2 separate regions of the Homo sapiens genome follow, and region 2 is linked to region 1. A link means that fine-mapping ties the variant in region 1 to the expression of a gene that starts in the linked region. Tissue or cell type: whole blood. Region 1 holds a variant in brackets; the other region holds the start of a gene. All regions are shown on one strand. Distances are between the middles of the regions.

What was found. PIP is the estimated chance that this variant, and not a neighbour inherited with it, causes the effect.
Region 2: GDPD5 starts here. The variant in region 1 is fine-mapped to the expression of GDPD5 in whole blood (INTERVAL, PIP 0.98).

The regions. Positions count from the first base shown.
Region 1 is chr11:75,461,852-75,464,604 of GRCh38, reverse strand. GDPD5 (glycerophosphodiester phosphodiesterase domain containing 5) reads left to right here. Exons shown (of 17, transcript NM_030792.8): 4 at 1,716-1,819. Among named protein-coding and RNA genes, the nearest start is that of KLHL35, 30 kb to the right of the region's middle. The variant G/C (reference allele first, on the strand shown) is at 1,480.
Region 2 is chr11:75,524,967-75,527,466 of GRCh38, reverse strand. It overlaps GDPD5 (glycerophosphodiester phosphodiesterase domain containing 5), which reads left to right and starts at 1,526. Exons shown (of 17, transcript NM_030792.8): 1 at 1,526-2,257. RefSeq lists silencers at 1,199-1,258, 1,309-1,828 and an enhancer at 1,675-2,175.

The sequences.
Region 1 (2,753 bases):
TCGGGCTCTGCACATGACAAGGAGTGGTGGCAGCTGCTCACCCAAACATGAGTCGCCCAACTGAAGTGACCCACCTGGGACAGGAGGGTCACCCAGGCACCAGCCCTCTTGCCCAGGGCGAGGCACGGAGCAGGCCCTTAGTGGGTATGGAGTCATGGACCATTAGGGTGTGAAGGCCTTTCCTACGTTCTGGAGAGGCAGAGGATGTCACAGATACACTGGTAGTGTGCTGAGTGCTCACCAAGCCACCTGACTTGTATTATCTCATTTAATTCTCCATCAACCCCATGGCATAAGTACTAGTATTGCCCTCATTTCATAGAGGTGAAAACTGAGTCACAGAAAGAATGAGTACTTTGCCCAGAGTTACACAGCTTGTAAGTGGTGACAGGGATCTGAGGTTCCTGGGCAGACTGATGGTATCTTTGCATGGTGTGGGATGGAAGGATTCTGGACAGTGAGAAGACTTTCCCTCCTTCCTGCCCAATCCTGCATGTGGTCATAAAGTACTAGTAGAGTGGAAGTCGGCTCAGTCTCTGTCCTTGCAGAACCCACACTTGTCTGGGGGACACAGTGAGCAGGTCATGGTGTGCAGAGCGTGAGTTTAGACAGAGGGATGCCAATGCTGCGGGCGCACCGCGGCAGGCACGAGGGTAGCAGGGTGAATCCAGGGAGGCTTCACAGAAGCAGTGATATTTGAGCTGACTTGAAAGGTGAGTGGGAATGTTCAGGGAACAAGCCCAGAGGCAGTGGCCCTTCCAGGTTGCAGGAACTGGTTGTGTAGGTCGAAGCTGGAGAGGTCAGGGGGCCACACTCCTGCTTGGCTATCAGTAAGGAGCCATGAAGAGGTTAAACTGGGATGGTTTAGAAACATAGCAGGGAGCTCAGACGTAGGGCTGCCTCTGTGACTTTACACCCTCAAGGGAAATGTAGTCTTGGTTCTTCCTCACACTGACCTCCCCTCAAGGGCTGTTGACTTGTTCTGATGATCTCAGCAGTTTCCCGGGATGCAGGATATTCCAAGCTTTTTGTGCTTCCAAGATAAGGGGACGGATGAAAGCAGGGAGAAATTGGAGGGCCAGGAGGAAGTGCCTGCAGACGCCTGAGCTGGCCCCTCAGGAAACAGCAGTGGTGGTGTCAGTGTCCCCCGCCACCCCACTTCCACCTGGCTGGAGACAGGGGTATCTGGCCCAGTGGAGGCAGCAGAACATGGCACTTCTGTACTTCTTCCTTAATCCTCTGCTAACTTGCTGTGTGACCTGGGCAAGTCACTTGGCCTCTCTGGGCCTCAGTGTTTTTCTCGGTAGCACGGGGTAGAGGTGGAGAAGAAGAGTGCCTGCTTTGTAGGCATGTGTGTGAGGGATGTGACTTCACAGACTGCCGATCACTGTGCCAGCGCCAAGGGAGCCGTCCCCAGAATAGGGAGAGCAGTACACGATGGAAAGGCTGCAGACCACAGTAAAAAGAGCACAGCCCCAG[G/C]GGGGGAGGCCCTGACTGCCCCTGGCTCTCCACCTTTCTGTGACTTTGGGCTTGGTGATGGTGGACAGGTCACTTCCCCTCTCTGAACCTCAGTTTCTCCCAGGGTAAAGAGGGCAGGAATTCCTGCCTGGCAGGTTTGGCTACAAAGTGGGAGGGAGGAGGACACATTCTGGTGGGAGGCAGCCTAAGGGGCTGGCCCCTGACCCACTTAATCCCCTCCTCCTCTGCTCTTCCAGTGGGAGCGCCTCTGGTTCCTGCTCCTCACCTTCACCTTTGGCCTCACGCTCACCTGGCTTTACTTCTGGTGGGAAGTCCACAATGACTATGATGAATTCAACTGGTGAGTAGGGGCAGTGGGTGGGGGAGGAAGGGGCCCAGAGCTGGGTATCCAGTAGCTGGGACCTGGGGGCTGGAGTTAGAGCCTGTCTCCCAGGTTGGCCCTCTGAGCTCTGCCACCAGCTCTCTGTGTGGCCCTGGGCAGGGCCTACTCCCTGGGAGCCTCTGTCCTGCTCACCTCCAGGGCTTTGGTGAGGAGGCTGGTGTGGGACTATAGTGGGAAGTGCCAGAGGTATGGGTGAGGATTGTATCGCAGACTGGCAAGAAAGAGGAGGAGGAAACAGAGAGATCCATGCCCCGAGGGGAGTCCTACTGCGAACTCAGGGAAAGCTTCCTGGAGGAGGAGGCATGGGAACTGGGCCTTAAAGAATGACTGGGATTGAAACCTGGGGAACTTTAGCTGCTGGTCTTGGAGACCCCTTGGTGCTTGCATTGATGATTCAGCCTGCATTCCTGGCCTCCTGAAGAGGTGGAGGGGAGCCTCAAAGAACAAAGGCTTACAGGAGCCAAAGCCCACTGGGGAGACACAGGGCATTCCTTCCCGGTGCTGTGACCATGGACAATAGGAACATAAGGCTGGGCCAGGGCTCAACCGGGGCAGGGCCCTTTGGTTACCCCCTTTGTATACAAGAAATCTACAGCTCAGAGAGACCAAGGTCTCTGCAGAGGAGATAGCCCTGGATCCTAGGCCTCCTAACTCCCTTAGCTAGGCCCTGGGCAGGGCTGGCAGATGAGTTTGGGGACAGCTCAAGGTCCTTTGTGGGTACCTCAGATCCAAAGGCAGGGCCGTCTGAGCCACTTACCTGGGTACAGGAGGGGCACCTGTTTTTTCCTCTTCGCCATTCCATCGCCTGCCTTTTGCTAAGCAGTGGAGAGGTCATGGGAGGAGGGCAAGGACCCAGGGTTCTACTGACAGATAAGGAAACAGGCCCAGGTCA
Region 2 (2,500 bases), 63 kb before region 1:
CCAGTCCCTCACCTGGTTCCCTGCCAAGTAGCACCTTTATTCTTCTTTTATAGATGAGGAAACAGAGGCTCAGAGAGGGAGAGTAACCTGTTAAAGCCACACAGCTTTACCCTAGAATTTGATAATGATGGGTGGATAGAACTCTGTGCCAGCTGTGTGGTCTCGGGAACGTCACTTAGCCTCTCTGTGCTGAGTCCTCATCTGTGAAATGGGGTACCTATCACAACATAAGGTTGGTGTGAGGTTTACAAAGAGACTGTACTGTGCCACCAACATCCCTTAGCTCCCCAGGCCAGTTAGCGGCTTTCACATGGTCCCTACCCCACTCCCCCGCGGCACACATTCAACTTTCATTCATACATCAGTTCCCTCCAACACCTTCTCTGCGCCTGGTCCTGTGCACACACTGAAGACGGCTCCTTGGCCAAGCACAGGGCTCACACCTATAATCTCAGCACTTTGGGAGGTCGAGGCAGGAGGATCGCCGGAACCCAGGAGATCGAGACCAGCCTGGAAAACATAGGGAGACCCTGTCTCTACAAAAAATTTAAAAATTAGCCAGATGTGGTGGTGCACGCCTGTAGTCACAGCTACTCCGGAGGCACAGGTGGGAGGATCTCTTTAGCCTGGAAGTTCGAGGCTGCAGTGAGCCGTGATAGTGCCACTGCACTCCAGCCTGGGCCACAGAGCGGGACCCTGTCTCAAAATAAAATGAAATAGAAAATAAAGACGGCTCCTGCACCCAACGCGCGGGGTGGGAAGGGGCGGGAGCGGACTGCAGATGCATCACGATTCGAAGTGTGTGTCCTCACACAACTCTGCTCTTGAGTTCGTATTTTTAAAATTGACCACGACGCTCCTCCTCGGGGATGGGCGCAGGGAAGGGAGGCTTGTGGAAGACAAATTCGCTCATTTCCAAAAACTTATTTTTCACCGTTTCCTGAAATCTGAACACTTCCCAGCCCAACTCTCACCTCTGAGCGCCGAGCACTAGAAGCTAGGGAGAAGCAAGGTGTCGGTGGCATCCCACCACTCAGGAGGGCTCGCTCCAGCGTCCCTGGGACCCCTGACCCCGGATATCCTCCACCTTGCCTCGCCCCGGCTTCTTTTCCTACACTGGCCCCTGCTCCTTCCCCGTGACCCCCGCAATCCCCGCACAGCAGTCCCCATGCCCCCGTCCCAGGCAAGCCAGCCCTCTCGCCTCTCCCTCCTTCCGGGTCCCGAGGCCAACCCCCTCCCCGATTCGGCCCGTTCCGAACCCCCAGCCCCGCCATTGTCCTCTTGCAGCCGCACCTCTCCATTGTCCGCCCCGCCCTCTCCGAGGTAGAATCCGCTTTCCGCAGGGCGCCGCTCCGCTCCCACCCTCGGATTGGCTCCTGCGGCCCCACGCGCGAGGCCCGGGAAGGGGAGAGGGCGCGCACCCCGCCCCTGCCCGCAGCCGGCCGGGGGCGGGGTCTCTGCTGACTCCGCCCCGTCCGGGCGGGGCCGCGCAGGCTGGCGCTGGGGCGCTGGGCGGCGCTGTTTCGGCTGAGCTCGGGCTGCGGCTCCGGTGGGGGTGGGTGGCGGGGATGACAGCGGAGGTGGCAGCGGCGCGGCGCTGAGCGAGCGGCGAGGGAGCAGGGGAAGAGGAGGAAGTGGAGCCGCGGCCGGGAGCTCGGGAGTCGGCCGCCGCGCCGAGGTTCGCCCCGTTTTGCAGAGAGAGCCGAGTCGGGACCTGGAAAGACTTCCCCGCGGGGCTCCGGCCGCCGCGCCTCCCCGCCGGCGCCTGCCCTGCCCTGCCCGTCCCAGCCCCGCGGTTCGGGGCGTGCGGCCGGGACGCGCGGAGCCCCGGCCCTGACCCGCTGCGCCGGGACGGGACGCTCCTAACGCCGCCGTACCGGTCCGTGGTTGCAGGGTCGCTCCGCGCCTTTCCGTCAGTGAGGGTCGGAACCCCAGCTCCAGGGCTAGCGCAGTGTGGCCCCAGGCCCTCGCCTCCGGTGCACGGGACCCCGGACCCCCCCAGCCTCTGGCTTCACGAGACCCCAACCTTCAGTTGGAACAGCTTGGAACAGCGCGAGCGCCCGGGAAGCCCTGGCCGGGTCGTGCGCTCGGTGAGGGGTCCTAGGCGGGCAGGACAGTCGGACCGAACCGCCGGGCTGGTGCCGCGAGCCCAGGCTGTCACCTTCGTCCCGCCTCAGGTGAGGGGTTCAGCGCCTGCCCCGAAGATAACACAGGGGTCCCCTTCTGTCCCGGCGGCCTGCGAGAGCCAAGGCTGCAGGTGAGAGCCCCGGATGCGCGGCAGGAGCGGTCCCCGACCCCATCGCGGCAGCGCGGGGGCCAGCGGAGGGAGTGTCAGGGGAAACAAGCAGAGGCTGGAACTGGCTGGGAGGGGGCGCGGGAAGGGGAGGGGAAAGAAAGAAAACGGGTACTTATTGAGCGCCCATTGTGTGCGGGTTCGCGCCCTGCCCCGCCCCGCCCCGCCTAAGCCTCACTGCTACTCCTGAAATAGGTGTTGTGTATT